Homo sapiens: one gene and its partner. The protein of the gene in region 1 interacts with the protein of each later gene in a pairwise test. Each region holds a gene or a part of one and is shown on either strand. Other genes may lie near its edges. The genes, in order: FMOD and ZBTB32.

Region 1 (7,589 bases):
ATAATATCGCCATGGTCATCTTTCTGCTGACCTCTGTATATTCAATTCAAGAAATCTGGTTGGGTGGGTTTTCAGTCACACCCTCTTGCCCTCCACCTTCCCTGAGTTATCTGGGATCAGAGGCTGGATCATAAAAACAAGGGTTGTTGAGTCTTGTGGGGGATGAAGAGGAAGAAAAGGGTTGGTGGCCACAAGAACGTCACTGTGTCTTTGCTGGTGGGAACTTGAGTCAGAAGGGACTTCATTTCTCCCAGACAGGGTGGGTCCAGCATCAGAGGCAATGAGCTTTGCCTAGTGATTGTGGCTTAACCTGTACTTTTCTGGGTAGGGAGGAAATAGCAGTGGCCTGAACCCCTGGAAAGTCTAAAGGTTTTCCTGGCCTGGTTGGTGGTGGTTTTTCCACCCAGCATTGAGTACTGAAGACAGACATACTCTGTGGGGAGCCAAAAATACAATTCCTTTCATAACCCTTTACTGATTGCCTACTAAGTGCCAACGCATTGTGTGCCCAGCTGGGACAGGGGCTACAGAAATGCATGACATTGCCTTTCTCTTTAGTTTATTTTCAGTCTAGTGACTGCATAGTGCTGGCTAGACACCCCCTAGAAGATACTGGTGTCCTCCTTCACATGTGGACTCCCTCAGCAAGCAATCTGGTGGACATCAATATCTCATTCTTGGCTTCCCATGTTGAAGGCAAGCTCTGAGGGCCTAGATCCAGGAACCAGGCAAACAAAGCAGCAGTGGCCAAAATGGAGGTAGAAACCTCCACTAAAGGTTAGAGAAAAGAACTTTTGAACAGTGGGTGGTTCCCTGAAACTCTGCCTTCTGACCTGGTCCCAATCATCCCTTCCATCCTTCCTTCATCCCAGGCCTGCCTTGGAACAGGATGGATAGCTAAAGACCTGGTGCACATCTCACCACTTTAGAAATGGCCAAAAAACCCCATGGAGATACTGTCTTTTTGGTGGTGCCCGGTTGGGAAGAATCCAGTCACTATTTGGTTCCCAGACTTTAGTAACTTTCATTGTTAGTAAATGCAGAATTAGTCAGCATGCTGGAATTTAAAAAAATAAACATCTGTACCCAATGGTGAATCTGTCCAGGCTATCTAGGCTCATTTAAAAGTGTTTCCCAGGCTCGGTTGCCAAGATCAGTGTCCTCCACTGAAAGGTGACTGCTTTCTGGACTCAAAAATGACTAGAAAGTTATCTGTGCATTATTCATAAGCATTTTCACAGTAAGGCCATTCTGCTTCACTCATGAGGTCAGAGTTTGCTACATTCAGATCTGCTTTATTATAATCAGGCATTATACCGAAGCCTTCTTTGTGTCTCCAACACTTAGGATCATGCCCAACACATAGTAGATGCTCAAATTTATTAAACGGAAATGAAATATGGGTGGGATGAGGAAGAGAACCCCTATACCCCAGCCCCATCTCACTTTAAAACCCCCCTGCCCCCAGATTCAGGCAGATTGGTCAATCGTAATTAATTAAGCTTCATCTTAGTCGAGGCCAGCCTGACAGCAGGGTAGTCATTGCCCCTCCACTTTGCCAATCCTCTGTGCTAGAGTTAGAGAAAAGTGTGTGGGCTTTCAAGTCATGTAGACCAAGGTTCAGATCCTTGTTTTGCCACTTACCAGCTAGTCACTTTATATCACTAAAACCCTAATTCCTTGGCTGAAAGCAGGGTCAAAAATAAAAAAAAAAAAATCCTGACAGAATGAGGTGACATAACAGAGGCAGGTCGGAGCCACTGCTGTCACCATGACCCGCAGTAACCAGCATGAGCTTACTGGCTAGAAAAATAGGAAAAAGCAGAGTGACTCAGTTAAGGGAAAACGTCGAGATGACGGGCTTTCTGCTGCTGCGGCAAGCAGAGGAGCTCAGAGACCAAGCAGCAGGAGCAGAAGAAGGCAAAAGAGAAGAAGGAGGAACCCGAGTAGCTTTGTGGCTTCATGTCCAACCCTCCTGCCCTTCGCCTATGTGACTGGAGCCAGTCCCACCACCCTCACGTTTCCTCCTGCAGTGCCCGCAGGTCCCCGCACCCATGGCCTCCTTTTGCCCTGAGTCTGCAGCGGGTCCCTTTTGTGCTTCCTTCCCCTCACGTAGCCTCTCTCCCCCTGGCCCCTCCTGGAAGTGGCGGGTGGGAGGTTACCCCTTCCCAGTGTTTTTTTATTCCTGTGGGGCTCACCCCAAAGTATTAAAAGTAGCTTTGAAAAAAAAACACTAATTCCAATGCAAAATATCTACTGTTATCTTTGATAACATAAGTAAACCACCTAGTCTATAGTAGGTGGTCAGAAAAGGCTCATTCATTAGGTTTCATCTTTTTGAAATCTCTTCTTAAATTCTGAGAATGGGTCCCTGACAAGGCCCTTTCTGACAGCCCACACGCTAAGTCAAAAGCTCAAACCTATTGGAGAAACCAAAAGGACCATCTGCCTCGACACTTCTAAATTCTTCAAATTCAAGTCATCTCAGGGTTTCTCAGTTGGTATTTTTTTAAGATAAAGGTGTTTCTTTGATGTTGGCATAAGCCAGTTAACATACTTGAGGAGAGAACATTTAGGACACATGAGTTTATCTAAGCTATTGAGATTCTGTGTGACCCACATTATAATGGTTCTCAAATGTTTTCTTCCAGCCCCTAAACTCCAGATTCAGATTCATATGTCCAACGGTCTACGTGCATCTCCAGGGGAATGCCTAGCAGGCATCTCTAACAGCATATCCAAAATGTAACTTTGGTTTTCTACCCAACTCAGTCCCACGTCACCTTTCCCATGTCAAGAAATGTTACCACCACCTACCCAGTTGCTCAAACTAAAATTCTAGGAATCATCCTTGACTTTTCCTAACTCTGCAAGACTTGTCAGTTCTCTGTCTAAAATATAAGATCTTCTCTTCCATTGCACCAGTCCAATCTGCCATTACCTCTCCTTGAGGCTGGGTTGGAGCCTCCCTGCTTCCACCCTGGCCTCCCCTTCTCCATACAGCAGCCCCTCCTACATGCTTTTAAAATGTAAATTAGATCCCATGCAAATCAGATCCCATGGCTTCTCCTGCTTGAAACATGTTTTTTTTTTTAAACATTTAGAATAGGCCGGACCGGATGACGCACGCCTGTAATCCCAGCACTTTGGGGCACTGAGGTGGGTGGATCACCTGTGTTTAGGAGTTCAAGACCAGCCTGACCAATATGATGAAACCCTGTCTCTACTAAAAATACAAAAAATTAGCTGGGCGTGGTGGCGTGTGCCTGTAGTCCCAGCTACCCAGGAGGCTGAGGCAGGAGAACGGCTTGAACCTGGGAGGCGGAGGTTGCAGAAAGCAGAGATTGTGCCACTGCACTCCAGCCTGGGCGACACAGCGAGACTCCTTTTCGATCTCCTGACCTCATGATCCTCCTGCCTCGGCCTCCCAAAGTGCTGGGATTACAGGCATGAGCCACCACGCCCAGCTGAGACTCCTTCTCAAACAAACAAACAACAACAACAACAACAAAAACATTTAGAATAAAAACCAAATCACTTCCATCGCCCAAAAGTCCTTTCATGGTACAGCTCCTGCCCAGCTTTCTGATCTTGTCTTTCCCTGGCTGAGGAATTCTATGGCTGTGAAATGGGTAGGACACAGTGAACCTCAGCTATGTGCCAGGTCAGGAGCCTCCCACACATCACCTGATACAGTCCTTGCTACAACCCAGCAAGGTAAGTGTTATTAACTCTGAATTTGTTGTGAGCATTAAGTGGAAGTGGATGATGCTAGTGCATAAGCAGTGATCAGCAAATGCTGGAGTCCCTGCCTTTCCTTTTGTTCCAGTGGTGGAGGTGGGCAGGACCTGTAGCCTAGAAAAGTCTACACTGCTTAGGGATAGAACTGGAACCAGAGCCGGCTGTCCCTTGTCATTCATGCTCCCTTATCCACTAGCCTGATGACCTGTCTATAGGGGGAGCTGAGAAGCGCGAGTTCTCGCTCTCTGGAGGGACATGTGGGTTGCTGAAGGAGTTAAGATGTCTCTTACCAAACCCTGGCCCTCCCCATCCCTGCATCTGCCTTTGTGGCTTTAATGAGAAATCCAGGCGCTTCATAAGAGACTGTACAAATAACTTCTAGGGCGCCACTAACTCATTCAGCAGAAAGGGACCCAGGGCTGCCAATGTTTCAGGGAAGATAAGTGAGTGGAAAAAAGGTGGTTTTTATAGCGTCAGGCGGACCGAAGGATTTGCGTGGTTGAGCGTGAACTCCGCCCCTGCAGCAGAGCTGAAAAAAACCAGGATCCGGGTTCCTCAGCCCCTTTTCACAATATTTGATTAGGAATTTGGGGCGGGACCCTGGTCTGGCACAGGCACGCACACTCTCAGTAGACTCTTTCACTCCTCTCTCTCTTCCTCTCTCACACGTTCTCCAACCCAAGGAGGCCAGACAGAGGGACGTGGTCACTCTCTGAAAAGTTCAACTTGAGGTAAGTATAGTCGTTTTACTTCGGGTTTGTCCCTAGCAGTTCCTTAAAAGAAATAAAGGAAAAGTGGTAGGGGATAGGGGAGATGGGGAGGCAGGGAGGGTTCATTCCTCCTTCTCCACATCTGGGCCATGACCCCAGGGATGCTGGAGAGTGGCAGAGAGGGTGTATAAGGGAGGGGTTCCAGCCCTGTACCTTTCTCTTACAGTTCCTTTATGGGTGCTGAGGGGACCTCCAATTCTCAGGCATGAAAAAGTGAAGGACCCTCTGTCTAGGGAAGCTTCTTCCCTGCTACTCATAAATCCCATCATGCTGGGAGTGTGGGCATTTTGAAGGGTATTCCAAGACCTGGATGTCCCTGCAATCTCTCTTATAGAGGGGTTTGGTACATAAATGCTATTATGGGAGAGGGGGAAACTTTTGTGTAGAATGTGTGTGTGTGTGTGTGTGTGTGTGTGTTTGGAGTGGAAAGGAGAGAATAAAAAGAAGCATTGAGAACTGGCCATGTCCAGGGAGCTGTGGATTGGGGTGGGGATGCAATCCAGGTGAGGGGATGGCCTCTGGCTTGACCTTCTCCACTGATAGGAGGGAGAGATCTTTCTCTAGAGTGGAGAAATGAAAGAACAGCAGTAGCTCCTGAGTAAACTTCCCCCAGCTGATAGTGTGGCAGTCCTGGAAACTTTCGACCTTACAGAAACTCTGAGCACAGGAGGGCCTCTAGCATTATGGGAAACAGTGTAAGACTATGCAACCCTGAAGCAACATTGCTAAGAGATGGGATGGGGTAAGGAGAGGCATAAGCTCCCCATCAAACCCTTTCAGCACCCATGGCTCTAAGAAGAGGCTGAAGTGGGCAGGGTGCACAGCCCCTAGAAAGCTGAGTCTGAAGGGGAAGGTGGCTCTTGTCTGCCAAGGTGCCCAGTCTGAAAGAAGGAGAAACGGAGACAGAGGCTCACTGTGCCAGCCCTCCAGACAGCCACCTTGGTCCTGCAACAGCCCAGGGCTGTGCATGGAAAAATGCTCTGTTGGCAGTGGGCCGCTCCATTCGTCTTCTCTCCTGGCCAGAGCCAGGAACCAGCCAGCTTGCCCAGGCAGTGGGCAGTTGGGTCAGCTTCTCCAAAACACTGTGGCTCTTTGTCTGAGGCCTGAGGCTGCCTGTGGATGAGCCAGGGTGCCTGCTCCTCTGCAACCTAGGAACTGATGGGATGAAGTGGGCCCAAGGAAACTGTTTTGAGGGGACAGAGAGGTCTGGGATGGATGGTGGTCAGGAGGTAACTCTGTTGAGTGTCATAGTTGGGGTCTTTCCCATCAGTTCACTGGATCTGATGATGTTGGCTTTTATACTCCTTTCTTTCTTCTGTTTACAGTTGCCAACCCCAGTAGGCCCAACAGCAATGTGAGGGCTGTATGTGACTCTTCCAGGCCAAGAAAGATTCTAAGGTTTCTCTGTCCAAGGGTGACACTCAGGAAGATGCCCACTGCTCACAGGAGTATGTCATGCATTGGCTATAGGTAACCAGGGTAGGGTACCCAGGCCACCCCTAGTCTCTTACCTTCCATACCTTTAGTTTCCCTCTCAGATGACATCAGACCCACATTTCCTCTTCAGTCTGCCCTGTTCCTATCTCATTAGCACAACAGGTTCAAAAGCAACAGGTTTCCAGCAATGTGGGGACCTAGACACAGAGCCTGGTCATCTAGGTGTCATCGCTGGGAGCAGGTAGCTTGGGAAAGGAGAGGAGAATGTCAGGGTCCTACCTCAAGCTGCTTTCCCTTGAGCATACACAAGAGTTTCCAATCTCTAGCTATTCTTTTGGTGTCCCTCATTCATTTCTCTTGGCCCCACATGGCTCTTGCATGATGCCCATGGTGGAGCATGAGGAGTGCTAACACCTTACTAGGCACCATGGAAGAGAGAAGCAGATTAACTCAGACTTCACACACTGAGTACCTGCTTTAGAAGGCAAGTGCCACACCCAGTGCCAGGGTCCTCAGTCTGGAAAGGATTTGTAACTGCTGCATGAAGACCCTGTCCCAGCCAAGTTGCATGTGTAGCCACAAACTGCTAACCAGTGAGTTTCCTCACTCAGCAGACTGTTACAGATGATGGCACTTTGGAGGGCAACCTGAGCCTTGTGGTGGCTGCAGAGGGACCACACTCCTCCCCAAACACTCAAGACCAAAAACTCCCAGCCTGCCCAAGAGACCAAAAGATTTTCCAGATGTAGTTCAGCTCTTCCCCTTCGATGCGTCAAGCGGCTTCTGGAGGTCTCCCATCCTAGGGCTTTCTCCTTGGACTCTTAGAAAAATACTATTTCCCCGGAACATCCAAACTGGATTTGGGTTCAGATCTGAAGAGCATCCCACTACCATCCTTACCACCACACCACAAACACAGGGATTGCTGTGGGCTTTTCAGCTTTCCCACAGGACTTTCAGAGTGCTAGAGGCTCCTAAGAATCTGCCCCTCCAAAAAAAAAATGCAGCTGTTCCCATTCAAAGACATTCTGTCTGTGACTCTATGACCAGGGGAAAATGCACTTAGCTCACCCCAAATAGCCATGGTCCGGCTGGACCAAGTGCAGAACCAGACTGGGAGGAGGCACCGAAGAAATGAGAGCAAGGCTCCTGCTCTCAGATGTTTGACATGGAAGTCAGCTCTGCATAGCTCAAAGCCTAAGGCTTGCCTACTCTGCCTCACTGCCTCTGTGGAGTCTCACTCATGCTGGCTTGCTCTGTTCTCTCCCGCTTCTTGCAGAGACAAAATGCAGTGGACCTCCCTCCTGCTGCTGGCAGGGCTCTTCTCCCTCTCCCAGGCCCAGTATGAAGATGACCCTCATTGGTGGTTCCACTACCTCCGCAGCCAGCAGTCCACCTACTACGATCCCTATGACCCTTACCCGTATGAGACCTACGAGCCTTACCCCTATGGGGTGGATGAAGGGCCAGCCTACACCTACGGCTCTCCATCCCCTCCAGATCCCCGCGACTGCCCCCAGGAGTGCGACTGCCCACCCAACTTCCCCACGGCCATGTACTGTGACAATCGCAACCTCAAGTACCTGCCCTTCGTTCCCTCCCGCATGAAGTATGTGTACTTCCAGAACAACCAGATCACCT
Region 2 (7,467 bases), on another chromosome or scaffold:
CAGGCACGCACCACGACACCCGGCTAATTTTTGTATTTTTAGTAGAGATGAGGTTTTACCATGTTGGCCAGGCTGGTCTCAAACTTCTGACCTCAAGTGATCCACCCGCCTCAGCCTCCCAGAGTGCAGGGATTACAAGTGTGAGCCACCCAGCCTGGGACCAATTGTTGACATTAGAAAATGGTAGACACAGGCCGGGTGCGGTGGCTCACGCCTGTAATCCCAGCACTTTGGGAGGCCGAGGTGGGCGGATCACAAGGTGAAGAGATAGAGACCGTCCTGGCCAACATGGTGAAATGCCGTCTCTACTAAAAATACAAAAATTAGCTGGGCGTGGTGGCACGTGCCTGTAATCCCAGCTACTTGGGAGGCTGAGGCAGGAGAATTGCTTAAACCCGGGAGGCGGAGGTTGCAGTGAGCCAAGATCACACCACTGCACTCCAGCCTGGTAACAGAGCTAAGACTCCATCTCGAAAAAAAAAAAAAAAAAGAAAATGGTAGACACTTATACCACTTGGCATATGAATGCATGACAAGAGATTGACAGATTACTCTGAGCCTCATGGCTGGAGAGGTTAACTATCGTCTAGCTTATTCTTTACCCTCCCCTCCTCATAATATACATGCATACCATTAATTGTTCTTTTTTTTTTTTTTTTTTTTTAGAGACACAGTCTTGCTCTGTCACCCAGCCTGGAGTGCAGTGGCACAATCATGGCTCACTGCAGTCTTGACATCCTGGGCTCAAGTCATCCCCCTATCTCAGCCTCCTGAGTAGCTGGGATTACAGGCATGTGCCATCATGCTTGGTGGCTGTCTGCCGAGCTGGGATTAACTGCACACTTCATGTGCCAGCACCCCGGGCCCCCACCACACCATAGAGGGAATGGCCAATTGAGCTGCCCCAATATTAACTGGTTTCGGGGTTAGACTTCCTTGAAGTCCACTCATAAGCCACTCCTTGCACCCTCACCCCTGGTTAAAGAACTCTGGGTGTACTGAAGGCACTCCGAAAGCATAAATACCACTGAACAGCTGAATGAAACTAGGTATCAACACCCTGCCCCATGAGTATAAAAAAGATCATCAGTAAAGACAACCTGGGTGATTTCCTTTATGTTATTTACTTATTTATTTTTGAGACAGAGTTTTGCCCTTGTTGCCCAGGCTGGAGTGCAGTGGCGCGATCTCGGCTCACTGCAACCTCTGCCTCCTGGGTTCAAGTGATTCTCCTACCTCAGGCTCCTAAGTAGCTGGGATTACAGGCATCTACCATGCCCGGCTAATTTTTTGCATTTTTAGTAGAGATGGGGTTTCACCACGTTGGCCAGGCTGGTCTTGAACTCCTGACCTCAGGTGATCCACCTGCCTCGGCCTCCCAAAGTGCTAGGATTACAGGTGTGAGCCACCACGCCCTGCCAAAAACCTGGGTGATTTCCTAAAGAGGAGAATATCTCACACACCTCTTCCTGTGCTCCACTACGATGTTCATCCTCCCCATGCACCTGCCCCGCACCTACAGCCTGATATCTTCATCTTCTAGGAATTATCAGAACAGGCATGGGAAAGAGTGGGACAGGGAGAATGAAAAGCTCCAGACATGACCCAATTCCAGTTTTTTTTTTTTTTTTGAGATGGAGTTTCGCTCTTGTTGCCCAGGCTGGAGTGCAATGGCACGATCTCGGCTCACCGCAACCTCCGCCTCCCAGGTACAAGCGATTCTCCTGCCTCAGCCTCCCTAGTAGCTGGGATTACAGGCATGTGCCACCACGCCCAGCTAATTTTGTATTTTTAGTAGAGATGGGGTTTCTCCATGTTGGTCATGCTGGTCTCAAACTTCTGACCTCAGGTAATCCGCCCGCCTTGGCCTCTCAAAGTGCTGGGATTATAGATGTGAGCCCCCACGCCTGGCCCTGCTTTTTTTTTTTTTTAATTAATTTTTTTTTTTTGAGACAGAGCATTGCTCTGTTGCCCAGGCTGGAGTGCAGTGGTGCGATCTCTGCTCACTGCAACCTCCGCCTCGTGGGTTCAAGGGATTCTCCTGCCTCAGACTCCTGAGTAGCTGGGATTACAGGCACCTGCCACCACACCTGGCTAATTTTTGTATTTTTAGTAGAGACAGGGTTTCACCATGTTGGTCAGGCTGGTCTCGAGCTCCTGACCTGGTGATCCACCCACCTCAGCCTCCCAAAGTGCTGGGATTACAGGTGTGAGCCACCACGCCTGGCCACCCAATCCCAGTTCTGTACAGAGCCACCACAAGGCAATAATACTTCATCCAGCGCAAACAGCTCGGCTGGGATTCAGAATCCTTCTCCCTAGAATCTCCAGAGGATTACTGGCCTAACCTCTTGGCCACATCATCCAACCTGGACTCCATACTGGGAAATCTGCCAAGAACATCTCAACCTGGAGTCCAGAACATTCACTCCCAGCCCAGGCTGGCTCCAAAGACCCCAGGAAACCTTCATGTGCACACTAGTTTCATCTCTTGGCCAGTGACTTCCTACATAACTTTTTTTTTCTTTTCATTTTTTTTCTTGAGACAGGGTCTCATTCTGTCGCCCAGGCTGGAGTGCAATGGCGTGATCTCAGCTCACTGCAACGTTCATCTCCTGAGTTCAATGAGTTCAAGCGATTCTCCTGCCTCAGCTTTCTGAGTAGCTGGGATTACGGACGTGTGCCACCACGCCCAGGTAATTTTTTTTAGAAACCCCGTAGAGACAGGGTTTCTCCATGTTGGCCAGGCTGGTCTCAAACTCCTGACCTCAAATGATCCACCTGCCTCAGCCTCCCAAAGTGCTGGGATTACAGGCGTGAGCCACCGCGCCCAGCCCCTGCATAACCTTTGGAGATCCACAGGCCTCTCCTTTCAGTCACCGGATCCAGGCTCAGTCCAGAGACCCTTGATAAGCTCTCATTGTCCGGAGGCCATACCTCATGCAGAGTTAAGGACCTCCAACTTCCCCACAACACCCTTCCTACTCAGGCTGGCCTCGGGGGCCGTGGACCAACTCAGAGAGCAAGCTGGCTTAGCCTCTGCCAAACCTAGGCCTAAAGGTGGCCAGGAGGCTGCATTTCCAGCCTCTCAAAGGCAGAGGAAAGCCCCAAGGGCTAAAGCCCTCAACCCGCACTTCCCAATCATCAACGAGGTCCAGTCAAGCCCCCATACCCCAGATTTGCCTGGGCCGGGCCCAAGCCCAAGAAAGTAAAGTAAGAAAAACTATGGCACTCACCGGCCCAGACCCTGTTCCTCCTTCCCTTTCAGCCTCACATACACCCAGGACGGCTTAAGGCCGAGTGACCGTTAAAAGTGGGGAATGGAGCGAGGCCAGGGACGCAACGCTCCCGCACGTGGTCACCCCTGGATCCTGAGGCGGACGCTGATTGGCTGCAGCGCGGGCCGCATTCTCCCGCTCAGGCCAGCTGAGCACGCTGGGCAGCCTGGGAGGCACCTAGGACAGCGCCACTCCCGCGCGTCTGCCTCGGACCCGCAGCTGATTGGCTGTGAAGGGGCAGAGCCTTGAGTCTCATTGGTCCATAGGCTTCAGGCCTCTTAGGCTGAGATTTCATTGATTTCCAGCCGGGCCCCAGCGTTGATCTGCTGTGGAGTCTGCCTTTTCCCACTCTCTCCACGAAGAGACTGGACCCTGATTCTCCTTCACCTGAACAGCCCTGGAGGCTCCCTCAGCAAGTGCTCAGGAGTACTACTGTCCTTTTTTTTTTTTTTTTTTTTGAGACAGAGTCTCGCTCTGTCGCCCAGGCTGGAGTGCAGTGGCGCGATCTCTGCTCACTGCAAGCTCCGACTCCCGGGCTCACACCATTCTCCTGCCTTAGCCTCCCAAGTAGCTGGGACTACAGGCGCCCGCCATCACGCCCGGCTAATTTTTTGTACATTTAGTAGAGATGGGGTTTCACCATGTTAGCCAGGATGGTCTCGATCTCCTGACCTCGTGATCCACTCGCCTCGGCCTCCCAAAGTGCTGGGATTACAGGCGTGAGCCACCACGCCCGGCTTTTTAAAAAATTATTATTTCATTTTTATTTTATGAACGGGGTCTCCCTCTGTTGCCGGTGCTGGGGTGCAATGGTGCAATCATAGCTCACTGCAGCCTCGAACTCCTGGGCTCAAGCAATCCTTCCACCTGGGCCTCCCAAAATTCTGGAACTACAGCCGTGAGACACCGTGCCTGACCTGCCTTTCTTGCTTCTATTTTGCCACCCTAAGTAGCTCCCATTTGCAAACCCTGTCACCTTTCTCTCAACCCTTTACCATCTGTGAGGTGTGTAGGGGGTGTGTAGGCTGCCGCCACACCTGATTGGCTGGGAGGCCCGTAAGAGCAAGCCAAGGCCAGGCACGGTGGCTCATGCCCGTAATCCCAGGGCTTTGAGAGGTCCAGGTGGTAGTAGGATCGCTTGAGCCCAGGAGGTCGAGGCTGCAGTGAGCTATGATCACACCACTGCACTGCAGCCTGGGCGACACAGTGAGGCCCTGTCTCTAATAAATAAATAAAAATAAAATAAAAGAGCCAGCCAGGCAGGGCACGGTGGCTCACGCCTGAAAACCCAGCACTTTGGGAGGCCGAGGAGGGCGGATCACCTGGGGTCAGGAGTTCGAGATCAGCATGACCAACATGGTGAAACCCCGTCTCTACTAAAAATACAAAAATTAGCTGAGCGTGGTGGCGGGCGCCTGTAATTCCAGCTACTCGGCAGGCTGAGGCAGGGGAATCGCTTGAACCCCGGGAGGCGGAGATTGCAGGGAGCCTATATCGCGCCACTGCACTCCAGCCTGGGAGACAGAGCGAGACGGCGTCTCAAAAAAAAAAAGAGCCAGCCAGGCTTCGGTGCCTGTGAACAGCTCCCTTTTCTCTCTTGTCCCACTCCACCACGATTGCTGGCACAGCTCACTCTGCCTCGCCTGGAAGCCTGGAAGTGTACAGGGACAGGAAAGACACAAGAGGGGGGCAGTGCCTTGCCCCGTGATTGGCAGCGTGACACTTGCACTTCCAATTCCCACTGCCACCTCGACTGTATGCTCAGCCAGGAGTAACTGCGCGCGGACGTGTCAGCACTCCCACCTCCAACCATACCGCAGAGGGAACGGCCGATTGCGCTGCCCCAACATTAACTGGCCCGGGGGTTAGACTCCCTCCAGCAGGGTTTCCCCCTGGGCAGGGCTTCGGGGCTAACAAGCTGCGAGCTCGCCCCTCGCCAGTCTCCCGAGGTGCTTGTCTGCGGGGCTTCTGGCCCGGCCCCCGCGGCGGTTGCACCGCTGATTGGCTGGCTCCGCTCCTTTCTAAGTGGCTTAGCCTGGGATTCGTTCTCAAGCATAGCCAATGAGACGCCAGGGCGCCTCAAGCAGGCGGGCATGACTCCACCGCTGTCGCTTCTGATTGGCCCTAAGGCTCGTCTTCGCTTTAGATTGACCAGAGAGCAGCGGGGCGGGAGCTTAGTTGAGCAGTTTCAGGCTGCGATGCGAGTTCGGTACCTTCCCGCTGCGCGGAGTGTTGTTGTGCGCGTCCTTCGCAGCCGCTCGCTGAGGAGCTGGAGTGGGGAGGAATGGGGGTGGTCAGGAGACAGGAGAGCACCTCGCGGAAGAGCCTGGGACAACAACCGGAGCTGTAGGTCCTGACCGAGACAGCCTGAGGCGTCCCTGGCCCCGATAGGGAGCGAAACCGCTAAAATGGGGGAAGGGGCCGGACGTGGTGGCTCACGCCTGTAATCCCAGCACTTTGGGAGGCTAAGGCGGGCAGATCACCTGAGGTCAGGAGTTCGAGACCAGCCTGACCAATATGGTGAAACCCCGTCTCTACTAAAAATACAAAAATTAGCCGGGCGTGGTGGGGGATGCCTGTAACCCCAGCTACTCGGGAGGCCCAGGCAGGTGAATTGCTTGAACCCGAGAGGCGGAAGTTACAGTGAGCGGAGATGGCGCCACTACGCTCCAGCCTGGGCGACAGAGCAAGACTCCATCTCAAAAAATAAAAATAAAAAATAAAGTAAAAAAGGGAGAAGGACTGGCACTGTGGTGGGAGTAATAGCACCTCGTGTTTACCGAGCCCTTTCCATGTGCCACGCTTGTGCATCAACTCGTTGAAACCTAAATAACCCCGTGAGGGAGGCGATTACTATGCCAGGTTAACCTCTGAGGGTCAAAGAGGTGAAGTCGTTTATTTAGGGTCCCGCAGCAGTTACGGGCATTGCTGGAACTCGAACCCTGCTGTGGTGAGAGCCCAACCTTCAAGCTACACTATGATTAAGTAGGATTGATTTTGTAGATGGGGATGGGGTCTGATCACATTGGCCCTGGTTTTGGGAAAATGGACTGACATGTACAAAAAGGTATTTTATTTATTTATTTATTTATTTATTTATTTTTGAGACAGAGTCTTGCTCTGTCGCCCAGGCTGGAGTGCAGTTGTGCGATCTCAGCTCTCTGCAATCTCCACCTCCCGGGGTTCAAGCCATCCTCCTGTCTCAGCCTCCCGAGTAGCTGGGATTACAGCCACCTGCCACCATGCCCGGCTAATTTTTGTATTTTTAGTAGAGACGGGGTTTCACCATGTTGGCCAGGCTGGTCTCGAACTCCTGACTTCAAGTGATCCTCCTGCCTCGGCCTCACATAGTGCTGGGATTACAGGCGTGAGCTACTGCACCTGGCCTAGAGAAAGGTATTTAAAAAATCAGTCTCATAATATCTTTGCTTTTTTTTTTTTTTTTGAGATAGGGTCTTGCTCTCTTGCCCAGGCTAGAGCACAGTGGCAGGATCATGGCTCACTGCAGCCTTGACCTCCTGGGGTCAAAGGATCCTCCCACATTAGCCTCCCAAGTCGCTGGGACTACAGGTGCACAACACCATGCATCACTAATTAATTAATTTATTATTTATTATTATTATTTTGTAGAGATGGTCTCACTATGTTGCTCAGGCTGGACTTAAACTCCTGGGCTCAAGGGATCCTCCTGCTTTGGACTCCCAAAGTACTGGGATTACAGGCACGAGCCACTGTGCCAGGCCCCAGACCAGTTTTAAGTGCTTTACCTACATCATCAGATTGACTCTTCATAGTAAACTCTATCGGATATTTACTGTTATTATTCTCATTTGACAGATACAAAAACTGAGGTTTGGCCTGGCACAGTGGCTCATGCCTGTAATCCCAGCACTTTGGGAGGATGAGGCGGGTGGATCCTTTGAGGCCAGGAGTTCGAGACCAGCCTGGCCAACATGGTGAAACCCTGTCTCTACTAAAAATACAAAAAAAATTAGCTGGGCATGGTGGCACATGCCTGTGATCCCAGCTACTGGGGAGGCTGAGGCAGGAGAATCACTTGAACCTGGCAGAGGTTGCAGTGAGCCGAGATCGCGCCACTGCACTCAAGCCTGGGCAACAGAGCAAGACTCCGTCTCAAACAAAACAAAACAAAAAAACAAAAACAGGTTCAGAGAAGAAACTGATTTTC

What was found.
Region 2: the proteins of FMOD (region 1) and ZBTB32 interact in a two-hybrid assay, tested with the Homo sapiens proteins (one study listed by BioGRID).

What each region holds. Positions count from the first base shown.
Region 1 is NC_000001.11:203,347,916-203,355,504, reverse strand, and holds the start of FMOD (fibromodulin precursor), read left to right. Parts: upstream 1-4,382; 5' UTR 4,383-4,472; intron 4,473-6,248; exon of another isoform or gene 6,249-6,259; intron 6,260-7,227; 5' UTR 7,228-7,234; coding exon 7,235-7,589. UniProt on the Homo sapiens protein: Affects the rate of fibrils formation. May have a primary role in collagen fibrillogenesis.
Region 2 is NC_000019.10:35,700,393-35,707,859, reverse strand, and holds the start of ZBTB32 (zinc finger and BTB domain-containing protein 32), read right to left. Parts: upstream 3,303-7,467; 5' UTR 3,237-3,302; intron 1-3,236. UniProt on the Homo sapiens protein: DNA-binding protein that binds to the to a 5'-TGTACAGTGT-3' core sequence. May function as a transcriptional transactivator and transcriptional repressor. Probably exerts its repressor effect by preventing GATA3 from binding to DNA.